Homo sapiens: one gene and its partners. The protein of the gene in region 4 interacts with the protein of the main gene of each other region in a biochemical or structural test. Each region holds a gene or a part of one and is shown on either strand. Other genes may lie near its edges.

Region 1 (3,500 bases), on a different chromosome or scaffold from region 4:
TTTCTTGGTCCTGTCTGAGGATAGGAGGAAAGATAATAGGACTCAGTCATTGGAGAAGAATTTGGTTTCCTGTTGAGAAAGTAAAGGGGACTTATTTGTCCATCAGCATTTCCTGGATTAGGTGCTGTGGGCATGGAACAAGAGAAGGCACAAAGCCTGCTTGGGAAGAGTTGGCCATTTAGGGGAGAGGACGAGATGCCAACTAGGTTGGTAAAAGAGGGCTGCTGGGGCCATAGTGGTGCCAATTTACAAATGCAAATCCACTGGACCAGAGACAGTTAGGCCAAGAGAGCACTTAGAGATAATGACTCTTACCCTTCATTTTACAGAAGTGGAAACTAAGGTCAGAAAGTGAGTGGATATGAGCAAGATCACCTGAATGTGTGAATAAAGACCAGGGCACAAACACCCAGGTTGTCCGTGGCTAGGGATCCACCATATGTTAAGGTTTTGTTTAGTGTATTTCTGTTGAGGGGATGACAGAATGTTCCTTGGGTACCCAGTGTGGAAGGTGGATGTAGAACACAGGCAGCTGAATGCCATGGGTTAAAAGCCATCATGGCCAAATATGGACAGGTAGAAAGCATCCATGATTCCTCTTTGGACCCTTAGTTGGATCAAGAAGATTGTCTCTCTGGCTGAAACAAAACGATCGTTAAAAAGAAATGAGAATTGGGGAAATTTGAACATGGGCTCAGTATTCGCAGATATTGAGGGATAATTGTTAAATGTTAAAGGGTGATAATGGTATTGTGATTCTGTTAAAGAGGCACATATTTATATATTTGTGGATAAGATGACACAATGTCACTTTGCTTTAAGATAACCTAGCGGTAGGGGAGTGGTTGTGGAATCAGGTTGAGGCCTGGTGAAACAAGTGTGGCCTTGATTTGATACTTGGTGAAGCTGAGTGATGGGTACATGGACATTTATTAGACTATTCTCTCTCTTTTTGTGTATGTTTGAAATTTTCCATCATATAAATTGAAGGAAAAGATATCATGTTCCCCAAAGTACTGCAGGACTTTTGATAAATCCATGGTGGTTTCCCATGTGTGTACTTCACACATAGAAGGTCAGGGAGCCAGAAGTGGGTTTGTGTCTTAGTGAAGGAGCTAGTGCTGGTTATTTAACATCTCTGAGTTTCAGTTTCTCCATCTGTAAAATAAGAATAGTAATAATATCTTACATGTCAGTGTGGTGAGGATAAAATGAATTTAGTAGGTAGAATGCTCAGCTCACGGCCTAGCATGAAATTGAGGCTTAATATTTGTTTCCTTCTTCCATTTTCTTCTCAGGACTGGGATGCACATGTTGACTAAAACCACATTTTTCCATGTTGATAGCTTCTGGAGTCAAATCCTGCTGAGATAAAGTATTAGTTCTAGTGCAAGGATGGAGAGAACCTCTTAAGATTCACTCCTGCCAGGCACGGTGGCTCATGCCTATAATCCTAGCACTTTGGGAGGCAGAGGCAGGCAGATCACAAGGTCAAGAGATCGAGACCATCCTGGCCAACATGATGAAACCCCGTCTCTACTAAAATACAAAAAATTAGCCAGGCGTGGTGGCACGCGCCTGTAGTCCCAGCTACTCTGGAGGCTGAGGCAGGAGAATTGCTTGAACCCGGAAGGCGGAGGTTGCAGTGAGCCGAAATCGTACCACTGCACTCCAGCCTGGGCGACAGAGTGAGACTCCGTCTCAAAACAACAACAACAACAACAACAAAAACCACCACCACAACAAAACATTCACGTCTTTGGCTTTGACCAGTCTTCCCAGAAATCCTGGATCTCAGGACCTTAAACCTATCAGAAAATGGTCTAGGTTATCCACAGTGAGGTTCATTCTGATCACAGACAGCTACAGGAGCCAATCTGCTTTCCCAGTTGAGAAATGTGAAAACCAGGGAGGCTGAACTTTTTTAAACTAAATAAAATTCCGCTTGCAGAATGCCCTCATACCCTTGCTATCTGGAAGATTGAGCGTATCCTTACAAAGTTAATGACATGTGCTTATTGCAAAGTTAATGGCATAGAACTGCATCTTCTATTTATCTAGCTCTTTAAGTTTTAAAGAATTCTAACCAACTTTATATACCATGCAAATTGTGTTTCTCTCTCTACATACACCCACACATATATATATAATGTAGTTAGCCTGACTTGTTTTTTATTTTCTCTATCTGTACGGTTGTGAAAGTAACCTAAGACATAAGGAATTGATATCTGGAGAGCATTTTGATATACTTGGATGAAGTACTTTTGGTGTATTTGGAAGTAGCTATCATGATCTGTTTACTTAAATTCATGGCTGCAATCATCACCTCTTCTCTAGTGTGCATTCTACTTGCTCACTTCTTTTTGAATACATCTTATAATTCTTGCATTAGTGAAATCTACTCTTCTTGATAATAATACCTTATGGTTCTTTGGCACTGTTGGTTTTAAAAATATTTTTGCATTCATTATCTCATTTAATCCTCACAACAGTGTTGTGAACTAAGCAGGGCACATATTATTTCTATTTTACAGGTATATTTCATTGACTTTTCAATGTTGGAAGGTGCCTTTAAGATCATGGAGCCCGACTCCCTCTTTTTCACTCGTGAAAAGTCTGGGTCTCAAAGAGGATAAGAGAGCTGTCTGGTTTCAAAGTGCCCATCAGTGACAAAATCAGGATGAGAATTCTTGTGACCTTTCAGTCTGTAATGCTGGTGCAACCCTCACTTAAGCAAATTGCCTATTCTACTTGACTTAGATCTGTCCTAACCACCTGCAGCCAGGAACACCTGAAGGAGCTGGTTAGAAATGCAGATTCCTGGGCCACACCCCAGTCTGAGTAAATCAGACTCACAATGGGAGGCTCAGAAATCTGCATTTAAAACTCACTGGAGTTATTTTTCTGTACTGGGATGTGTGAAAGCTACCAGCTCATTGGAGTTAAGCTCTGTGGATCTGAGCCCCGTTTTATGCTGTGGTCTTGAGGTCTATGGCCACCATCATGAATTCCTCAGGGTCCTTGACTGGCTTTATCACCACATGTTGAACGCTCATTGCTCAGTGATATGTCTGGGATGGGTTTTCTTTCTTTCCAAAATTATTAGTTAGACTCTGCTTTGAGTCTAGCATTGCATTAGAAGCTGGGGTGAATGTTTAAGGGGCTGCTAGCAGAAAAGACTCAAGGGTGGCTAAGAGTGAAGGATATGCCCAGATGGGCAAGAGAGAAGGCTGGGCTGACCAACGGCACCGCCATTTTGGACACAGCAATTTGGGTGGCTGTTTGGATGATTCATGCTGCTTCTCTGCTCATGCTAAGTGTGAGTACACATCTGTGGGTGGTGGCCCTTGAGAACAGTGTTTGTTCCTCCTTTAGGGTGACAGAATGTGCCAGAGCCCATGCTTAGTGCTTTTGTACATTGCCTTTTTTAATCCTAAAAATGTCTCTATGAGGCAAGGAGTAAATGCAATTATCCCAATTTGAAAATGTGGAAATTAAAG
Region 2 (3,500 bases), on a different chromosome or scaffold from region 4:
TGCTTTTCTGTGATTACCCTGTTATCTTAAGTAGTCTTTTAGAAGACAGGAAGCAAACATGAGCTTCCCATTCTCCTTGTTGGACTTATTCAAGTCAGCATTTATTAAATTTTTTCCATATTAAGTGGGATGAATTAAGGCCAGGGGAGAATGAATCAAAGACCTTCCTCTAGAGAAGCATACACTCAAGAGGAAGACAAATAAATGTTAACTGTAATTAAAAAACAGAATTAAATACATGATACAAAGAGTGCTGTAATCCAAGTCTAATGGAAGTAAAGAGAAGGGGATCTTACTTTCAACTTAGTGATGGGAAGGAGTGGATCCAGAAGAGCTTCATGAGGAGGGAAGCATTTAAATCGGGTCTTAAAGGAGGTTTGCAAAAGCTAAAGGGTTTTGTACCAACTTTGTTTTCAACATGGGAAAGACAGGATTTCAAACTTTATTTTGTTTTAGGAACCAAATCCAGTGCTCCTCCATTGTTGGAATAAATGCTCTTTGCCTGAATGCTATTTGTGGTCTTCGTAGAATGGAGAGTAACTGAAGGCCCCACCGGAAATCAATTTTATGTAAGCTTTTCATTCTCTGGCCTCAAGTATTTCTAAAATGTACCTTTCTATGCAGGCTACTTATTCAGGCAACTATTTTCAGGTGAAGATACTCAAATGAAAATAGAGAATCCCTTTTGGCCTTTTGCTAATATTTCATTTGTCAAAACTTTGATAGTCTGACAAAGTCTTTACCATGAGATTGGTAAACTCACGGAAGCCAAACTGTCTGGGATGCGACTTCAGCTCCACTACTTACGAACTCCATAATAATGTACCTAGCCTGCCTATACCTCAGTTTCCCATCTATAAAGACAATAAAAGCACCTATTTCACTCATGAGAATGAACTGAGTTATTACACGGAAAACTTAAAAACATATCCAACATACCATAAATCAACAGTAAATGTAACTATTTTTACCAAGAGGTGTCTTCAAAGAGTTTATTTCTAATTCATTACACCAATTAATAAGAAAGGCACTTTCTCATCCTATTTCACTTTTACAAGGCAGACATTTTTTTTCAAGACGGAGTCTCACTCTGTCGCCCAGGTTGGAGTAAAGTGGCACGATCTCGACTCAGTGCAACCTCCGCCTCCCAGGTTCAAGCAATTCTTCTACTTCAGCCTCCCAATCCCAGTAGCTGGGATTACAAGCACCCACCACCACGCCCAGCTAATTTTTGTATTGTTAGTAGAGACGGGGTTTCACCATATTTGCCAGGCTGGTCTTGAACTCCTGACCTCAAGTGATCCTCCTGCTTTGGCCTCCCAAAGTGCTGGGAATACAACAATGAGCCAGTGCACCCAGCCAACAAGGCAGACTTTGAAACTGTGTTTATCTTCCAAAAATACGTATATCTTAAGAAAAAACTAAATTTGATTTCTAAACAGTAACAGCAGTAACAGAGAAATAGCTTATTTCAAAAGGTCCACAACTTCATCAAGGACAGGACAAGCAAGAATCATATTGTATTATAACAAATTTTTACAATTCACCAAAGTTAGGTTTTACAACTAAACTAACAGTTCACTTCTCTTTTTCCTTTGTTTCTTAGGCCCTTACAGCCTAATACTCTATCATTCCATTTTCTATAGATCACATAGGAAAACATTTTGAGATCACACAGCTATTCGCAAACATCTGACTGAAGCAATAGTATAGTTTTCATTATGAACCAAGTAAAAAATTGAGTTGAGTAAATTTTATTCTATTCTTTCCAGGATGTTGCAATCCCTACGCAACCAAGGTTTCAAGTTAAAGAGAATTTGGCTGACCCACTCACAGCAACAAGGAAAATATGATACAGGCTGTAGATTCTGATAAGGATTATAGCAGATGAATGTAGAGAATGTGGTGATCATCCTTGAAAAGCTCCCTGGTTGCAGCAGCTGAAATGTTAGTGCTGGAGTTAAAGAACTCTGGCTGGGTTCAAGTCTTAGCTCTGCCTCTTGCAAGGTATATAGCCAGAGAAAAATTAGCTTCTCATTTACTTAATCTTGTAAACTAGGGACAATAAATGGTTTTGTTGTGAAAATTCAATTAGCATTTGATGACCTGCACAGTGGCTTATGCCTGTAATCCCAGCACTTTGGGAGGCTGATGTGGGAGGATCACTTGAGCCCAGGAGTTCAAGACCAGTCTGAGCAAGATAGTGAGACCTTGTCTTTACAAAAAATTGTAAAAATTTAGCCAGGAGCAGTGGTGCGTGCCTGTGGCCCCAGCTCCTTAAGAGGCTGATGTATGAGGATCACGTGAGCGCAGGAGGCTGAGGTTGCAGTGAGCCTTGTCTGTGCAGCTGCACTCCACCCTGTGCAACAGAGCAAGACCCTATCTCAAAATAAATACAATGAATAAACACGTGAAAAACATTTCAAACAGTACTTGCCACACAGTGCTATATAAGTGTCTATTCAACACTGCAATAACTTTGGCCATTCATGGTTGTATCCACATGCAGATACGAAGATGGTTGCATTTTTTGGAGTAGGCCTTCTCTCAGCATAAACAAAACAAGTGTTCAGAATGATCTTTTAACATTTGATGCTAGAGTAAATGACCATAACAACTACTATAATGGTATTATTTATTTAATATCTGGATACTTAAAAAAATGTATTTGAGGCCAGGTGTGGTGGCTCATGCCTGTAATCCCAGCACTTTGGGAGGCTGAGGCTGGCAGATCACTTGAGGTCAGGAGCTTGAGACCAGCCTGGCCAACATGGTGAAACCCTGTCCCTACTAAAAACACAAAAACTAGCCGGGTGTGGTGGCACGCACCTGTAATCCCAGCTACTCAGGAGGTTGAGGCAGGAGAATCACCTGAACCTGAGAGGCGGAAGTTGCAGTGAGCCAAGATCATTCTACTGCGCTCCAGCCTAGGCAAAAGAGCAAGACTCCATCTCAGAAAAAAAAAAAAAAGAAAAAGTATTTGGTTTTAAAAGTATTTTAGAAATGCAAAAACCACATGCATTTTGATATTTTCTAGACATCTAGATATCTTCATAATTAGAAGAGTCTATCTAAGGTAATGTTCACTTATTCTAGCAGCTAAAAATGAAAACAGTGAAGACCTTAATTTGTAGCCACTACATATATAGCTTAAGTATCCCGGCTTACGGGAGAGAAGATCCCTTTAAAAAAAAAATTTAAATGGAAAAATATCCCAACCAACTCCTCTCCAAAAAGGTAAGTACTACAGAAGATAATAAAAAGCTAAGTCACTGAACTTCTTCAGTTTCATTCATTTTTTTATGTTTACAATGGGACTTCCTTGAGCAGAAGGAACCAATCCTTGAAAACAATCAATTCCTGATCACTCTTTTCCAATCCTGCACTAATGCACTGTCTCACACAAACCGAAAATATGTTCTAAGTCAAAATGTGTCCAGGGGTCGGGCGCGGTGCCTCACGCCTGTAATCCCAGCACTTTGGGAGGCCGAGGCGGGTGG
Region 3 (3,500 bases), about 130 Mb from region 4:
ATATCATCCAGGTTTCTAACCTTTGAAGAGGTGAGCCTCCTATTAACTAGATAGGTTATGATTATTGCATGGTCAAAATGACATTTAACTCGGGTCTGAAAGAGACATGACCACTCCACTATATTATCTATCTGAATGTTGAGATTCTTCATTGTATCATCATTGTGTTAGTCAGCAGCATAGTCTCTGAGAATCAGCTGTGGTAAAGCAAAGTCCCTGAAGCTGAAAGCTGGAGCTGGACAGGAAGGCTCTCTCTGAGCTATGGGTTGGAACTGGTCCTTTGGCCTTGGCCAAGAGGAGTTTAAGGCATAGGAAGGACCTTTCCCAGGTGGCTAAGAAAAAAAGCAAAGAAAAGAAAGATGGTTCCTAGTACATGAAACACATCAAATGCCACAAGAAATTGAAGACAGATAAGGTCTTCTGGGCTGCAGGCTAGACTAGAGGGACAGGATAGTGGAACAGAGCCAGAGACAAACACAGGTTTAAATTTTGGTTCTGCCTCTGCTAGCTATTCAGTCTTAGAGACAATACTTAATTTCTCTGAACTTCAGTTTCATTACTTGTAAAATGGAAATAATACCTAAATATCATGATGTGGTGATAAGAATTAAACTTAATCCTTAATGTAAAGTACCTAATACCAAGTCTTCATCAGAGCAGACACTCAACTGAATGGTTGTCATTGTTGCTGTTTGTTGTTGTTGTTGTTAGAAGTCTAACATTTTTCTCTGTTAACTGCTAGAGGTCCCTCAACAAAACAAATTAGGATATTTTCCTCCAATGTCCAATGAGCTATCACTGAAGGACAGCACTCCACAGTGGGAGCCCTTAGATCCAATGCTGGAATTTCCTTTATGTAAGAACCTTCATTTCTCCACAATCAACTTTGATCAAGTTGCTATGTCTGGAACAAAGCTCTCAGATAATTGTTTATATACAGTCTCAAAGTCATCAGTCTAGGACATGAGAGGTTCAGCAGTGAGGATAAAGGAAGAACTTGGTCAAGCAGACTGGGGCTGCTGGGTAGTAGGATAAGACAGGTTAAGGCAGAAGAGAACTTTCAAAACGTCTACAGAGCAGACAGGATGTGGCTCAAAGGGTTACCAGAGTTGACCTCTTGCGGCTAGTCTCTATATTCTCCTTCAAACAAGCCTTGACCAAAGGATGGGCCCTCATTTCATAAGCCTGCTAGACAGGAGAGTTCAGGAAAAGAGCTGAATTCTTGGGAGCTCAGGACACAGACCCCTGGCTTCACTCTTCATTGCTGATGTTCCTCAAGAAGAGATAGGCATCCAAGTCACACCAATCCTGACAGGTATGTCCAGAAAGAACATTTTCTGTCTAGATACCTTATGTAACAACCACTAGAGTCCCACCTCAGAGAAACAAGGAAGAATTAAAGGCCCTAGGAGACTAACTTAGAACAATCACACTGTCTATAAGCCATGGCTCTGGGATTCATACCCATGGGATCCCCAAGCCTGGCAGAATGGAAAAGGACAAATATGGCAATGGCAGTACCATTGCTACCTTATAAACTTAAGGAGAACTGTAGGGAAATTAGACCTCAATGTTACCTGAGGGAATACAGAGATTTTCACCAACACCCTGAACTGCGAACCTTTCCAGAATGAGGGAGCTATCCAGATGCTGGTAGGGAGTGTGTATCACCTGCATTATGAAAAGGACTTAACATAAGTCCAACCCACCCCAAGGCAGCCCAGGGGGACTAACTGGAGCAATCATGCATATGATTATGATTAGCATCCTAAGCCAGAGATATGAGGGTGGTATGTAACAAAGAGGGGTTTAGAGATACACACTGACTTGATCCAGGTGGCAGGGATTACTGAGGACTGCAGAAGAGTCAAGACAAGATCTACAGTTAAGGATGAGGTCAAAAAAGGGAGCAGTTATACTCCCTCCTATTGCTCTACAGAGCAGAAAGAGAAGCCACTGGATATAAAGGATATGTGAGGCTTCTGACTCACGCCAGGGGCTTGTCACAAATGTGAGCTGCCAAAAGACCAGTGCTGACTACTGTGTAACAGATGGGAAAAGCTGAGAATTCAGAAACAGTCATCAGTCCCAGAGATCATGACTAGCCTAGATGTGATTAGGATACACATGTCCCAAGCCTGCCTGTGTTTGAGGCTGGTGATGTCCAGGCCTTCAGCAGCAATAAACAGGATCTATAAGAAAACATGATTGACAGAGTGCCCGCCCTGAAGGCAAGATCCAGAATATGGGGCCAGCAGATATTACATTAGTGGAAGTGACATCAGAAGCCATGAGAGGAGAGACTCACAGCCCATATACAATGAGGTTGGCAGTGGAAGTAGGAGAAGGTGGTAAGAGACAGTCACATGCTGTGAAAGGAAGAAACAGGCAATGGGCTGTACTAATTAAGAAATGGACACAGGCTGCCTGGACAAAGCATACACAGGGCAAGGGAAACATGAGTTTCTGGTTTCTGAAGTCTCTCCCTGGATTTGTTGTTTCCCCAGCCCAACCAGCATCCCTAACTTCCTTAACTATCCCACTATGTCTCTCTTCACACTTTGTATATCTTACCCTCTCCAGACAACCTCCCTTTCCCTCCCTCAGTGGCTTACACATACCCTCATCCCATGAGGACAGCCCCTACACCCAATGCTTATCATGCACAATGGTTGCCTTGACCATGCCCCCATCATGGTCGCTCACAGAAAACCCTTCCCATCCTCCCACCACCACCCCAAGTAACTCACACTGGTGCAGGCACCCTCTCCCTCTCCTCCCACACCGTCACTCACAATAACCCCGCACTTCGGATCAAAAGCGAAGGTGCCACAAGTGAGGAGGTGAGAGGCATTGGCAATGGCGAGAATCTGGACAAAATTGTGACATTCGTCCTGGGGGTCAGAGACGGTTAGAAAGAATCAGAAGCAGCAGGTACGAGGAAGGGTAAGGTAACGTCAGGACAGTTAGATGCAGCTTTGGGATCAGAGATGATGGGTGATGGCATGGTGTTAGAGTCTCTGCCTGGGCCCATTGGTATGGAAGCATTACAGGGGACTGAGAGTCAGGGCTGGGCCAAGGTCTCAACTGACACTCAAGACAGGGCTCAGATTTACACCTACCTCTTTCTTGCCTTTCTTCCTACAGTTCTGTCTGTGAGCCTCAGGAACCATCCAGTCAATCTGAGAAAGGAGAAGTGATCATTTCACCCAGATTCCCCTAACATCAAACTCCCTCGATGTTAGAGGAGATTAAACTGTTCTATAACCTCCATCAATTTGGGAACTTCAAAAGTCCCCCTAGAGCATTGTTTTTCAAATGGAGGTCCCCACCCATTAATGAGTAATAAAATCAATTCTGAAATCATGACCAACATTATTTTTAATGAAATAGAATATATCAAAATGTATCACATATAAGAGGTAGATATTGTTTCAAGAAAGGTTTCTTTCAGTACATAATTGTGTACCACAATACACAGTATACACTGAGCATCCCTT
Region 4 (3,500 bases):
TTTTCTCTCTGATTAGCAGTCATGCGTTACAATGTCAGTGAGAAAAAGCTTATCAGTAACATGGAGAATTCCTAACACCAAGGAGGTCTTCAGGTTTAGAAAGGGCAAAGGTAGAGTAGACACCTTCCTTTCTGGACCGGGCTGGCCTCGGTGGCACTCAGCTATACGGCTGCAGTCATGGGGTTCTTCTGCCGGGAATCCTGGGTTCGGTAAGGGTACTGGTCTGGGCTGCCCCCACGGGGCCCTGGTCTGCCTGTTTCCTGATAGGCTGGCATTCTTTGGTGCTGGGGAGGGGAAGGCGGAACGTCTTGTCGAAAGGGTCCTTTGTGCTGGGGAGCTGGCGGGGGTGGGTAGTGCTGAGGATACCGGAGATCTGCCACCCTGAGCTCTGTGGGGCGGGGATAGCTCCCTTTGGGAGGGTGCATAGGATGAGCCCCTGGATAATAGGGAAGCTCCCTTTCCTTGTAGAGCCCCCGAGGTGCTGCTGGCAGATAGTCTACAGGATCTGCGGGTCCTCCCCTGGAAAGAGAAGAAGAGACACATGTTAGCAGCTCCTAAGCTGGCCGTCCGGCTGGAGAACATGTTCCTCAGCCTCCTGTGCAGTTTGGTGTGGCCACCGCATAGGTCTGGCCAATGGGATGGGAGCAGAAGTGATACGTGCCCTTAAAAAGAAGAGAAGGGAACTTCTTCCCTTCTCTCCTTCCTGTTGGCCAGCAGAAAAACCATCTTAGGCCACAAGGTGAAAACCACGTGCTATGGGAGGCAGAGCAACAAGAAGGTGAGAGCCTGGGTCCCCGTTGCCATGGAGCCACCATGTCAATCAGGATTGCTTCCATTCACATTGGTGCATGAGAGGAAAATACACTTCAATCTGGTTTATACCCTTTTCTGTTGGCCTTTATTATAGTAACCAAACTAGTTTCCTAAACAAGGCAGTGAGTTTGCCTCTCTTAAGGATGGGGTCATTAGTTCCCTCCCCTTTTCTACCACCATATCCAGGACAGGCTGGGCTGAAGTCTGTCCTAGGCATGGTGATAGAAATGTTCAGGTTATTTGGAGTCATAAAGTTTCCATGGACTGCACTCGCTTTTCTAAATCTGTGAGGTGCTCTTTTAAACGGGCTGTCATCTTGGTCTAACTCTGGTTGGCTGCTGTTACATCTTGGTGTGGATTCATATGTCCCTCCCCTCCCTAAATGCTCTACAGTCCTTAGAAAAAGTCCCAAGCCAGAGCACCTAGAGCTCTTTTTTTTTTTTTAATTTTTTTTTTGAGAGGGAGTCTCATTCTGTCACCCAGGCTGGAGTGCAATGGTGCGATCTCAGCTCACTGCAACCTCTGCCTCCTGGGTTCAAGCGATTCTCCCACCTCAGCCTACCGAGTAGATGGAACTACAGGTGCCCACCACTACACCTGACTAAGTTTTGTATTTTTTTTTGTAGAGATGGGTTTCATTATGTTGGCCAGGCTGGTCTCAATCTCCTGACCTTAGGTGATCTGCCTGGCTCGGCATCCCAAAGTACTGAGATTACAGGCGTGAGCCACTGCACCCAGCCCACACCTAAAGCTTTGATATAAAGTAATCAACTCTACCACAAAGCCAGGAAGTAGCACCAGTCCAGTAGCAGAATAGGGAAATGCCAAACCAGCTGTAAGTTGTACCTTGTAATGGGTAAGGCACACAGAAACATCCAGGGTAAGAATAGACACTAACAGAAAGTGGCCCTGTCTGGATCTCTCACTAAAGAAAACAAGCATCTTCTGATCCGTTTGCCATAACAGAAGCAGTGTGCCTCTAAACAATGTGCAGATGACTGCATTTTATCTAGCCTGGGGTTAAACAGATGAGTTCTGTTTGCAGCTCTTAAAATCTCATAAACCTTCTGTGCACACATTCACCACCACCACCATCCCCAGATCCTTCCCATTTTTTTGCCACTCCCCCTTTTATAATTTTTAAAAAAGAAAAACAACAACAATAATTAAGGGAAAGCTCCCCAATGTCAGACACACTGCTAGGACACTTGAAAGAAATGACAGGGCTGTGAGAATACAGTGTCTGTGGTTAATCAAGCACTGTCAATGAGGGTCAGAATCACCCTGTAATCTGTGGAGGTGGATGTTAAAACAGCTCTGTAAGTTGCTCAAATCAATGAAGATTTGACAAGCTCCCAGCTCGGTGCATGTAGAAAGCAGCTTGTGAACAAATCTATAAGGATGAACAATAGAATTCTCTCTACTTTTTTGTCTTAATTTGGCTATGTATAATAATGAAAGATCCTTGAGCTTGGGGTAATTTAGTTAGAGTTTTCAGATAAAAAATTAAATTGTTTGTGTACAAGTTATTATAGCATCAGCTGCTATTATTCAGTGCAGTTTGCTTTGCTGTATTTTAAATCGCCCATGACAAATGGAGCACAAATGGATAATCTGTCACTCTAGCCATGGGAAATAAAGGCTCTGGATTTCACCTTTCCCTTTCTTTAGAATTTCATTTTTGATTTAGAAAACTTCCAGCCTTCGGTATATCTTTTATCATAAGAATTCTTTAAGTCTCTCTCCTCCACCTCACCATGCTCATTTTCATTTCCTTTTGGTTCATGTTGGAGATATCCGATACACTCAAAAAATTTTTCTTAACCTGTACTTTCTCTCAAAATCCACTGAAGATATTTCTCTGCATGAAGTGAAACATGTGGTTTTTCTGCACTCATTTTAAGCCCTTAGGATAAATCACTGACATTTGCAACACACAAACATTATTTGCCTTCAAATGAACATACAACCAGCCCTCCCTCCGGACTCTCTTAGCATGAATGCTTCCTGTTTAAAATGGAAAGAGAGAAAGGAAGAATTCCAGGCCTTGGACTTTTAGGGTCCTGTTCTCTCCCTGGAGATTTCTCTCTCTTAAAACAGAGCATTATAAAAGACAGGCACGCCTTGTTTTTTTAAATTTTTGGAGAGAGAATCCAGATCAAGTGGTGACAGGGCAGAAGCCACCCTGAGAGGTTGTGACAGTACAGTCGGCGAGCACATGGGGGGACAGTCGCTATCTCTTCTCCCACACCTTGCTCCTCCCAGGCAGCCAGTGCTCACAGCTCACAGTGAGGGGGAGGCTTCCCGTGGGCAGATAGGGCAGACCTCAAGATACTTTTGTGGTCCCATATTGCTTCCTCTGAGGGGAGGTTTTATGTCTGGGAGTTTGCTTGTATGTGGCAGAAAGCAAGAGAGGTAGCTGTTCTTTGTCAAGAAATGAAGTCATGGAAATTGTCTTTTTCTGTGGAACTCATCATAACAGTTAGCATTTTTAATTTTTCAGAGAGAAGAAAAACAATGAGTTGGCCTACTAAAACACTGTTTAAGGTTCAAAGAGTGCTAGAAGAATTTTTCTTTATTTTGGGGGATGGTGTGTAGCTGTTGTTTATAACAACATTTTGTTCATAACAGAATTTCCTACAGACTTTTGTCAGAACAACTTCTAAGTTCTTCTGACTATTATGTGT

What was found. The genes of interacting proteins can lie anywhere in the genome.
Region 1: the proteins of PARD3B (region 4) and CBY2 interact in a test that uses a peptide from one of them, tested with the Homo sapiens proteins (one large-scale study listed by IntAct).
Region 2: the proteins of PARD3B (region 4) and ABCA1 interact in a test that uses a peptide from one of them, tested with the Homo sapiens proteins (one large-scale study listed by IntAct).
Region 3: the proteins of PARD3B (region 4) and SEMA4F interact in a test that uses a peptide from one of them, tested with the Homo sapiens proteins (one large-scale study listed by IntAct).

The regions. Positions count from the first base shown.
Region 1 is NC_000013.11:45,708,820-45,712,319, forward strand, and holds part of CBY2 (protein chibby homolog 2), read left to right. Parts: intron 1-3,500.
Region 2 is NC_000009.12:104,921,656-104,925,155, forward strand, and holds part of ABCA1 (phospholipid-transporting ATPase ABCA1), read right to left. Parts: intron 888-3,500; exon of another isoform or gene 457-887; intron 1-456. UniProt on the Homo sapiens protein: Catalyzes the translocation of specific phospholipids from the cytoplasmic to the extracellular/lumenal leaflet of membrane coupled to the hydrolysis of ATP.
Region 3 is NC_000002.12:74,657,247-74,660,746, reverse strand, and holds part of SEMA4F (semaphorin-4F isoform 1 precursor), read right to left. Parts: intron 3,183-3,500; coding exon 3,123-3,182; intron 2,895-3,122; coding exon 2,796-2,894; intron 1-2,795. UniProt on the Homo sapiens protein: Probable cell surface receptor that regulates oligodendroglial precursor cell migration. Might also regulate differentiation of oligodendroglial precursor cells. Has growth cone collapse activity against retinal ganglion-cell axons.
Region 4 is NC_000002.12:205,612,475-205,615,974, reverse strand, and holds part of PARD3B (partitioning defective 3 homolog B), read right to left. Parts: intron 520-3,500; coding exon 162-519; 3' UTR 1-161. UniProt on the Homo sapiens protein: Putative adapter protein involved in asymmetrical cell division and cell polarization processes. May play a role in the formation of epithelial tight junctions.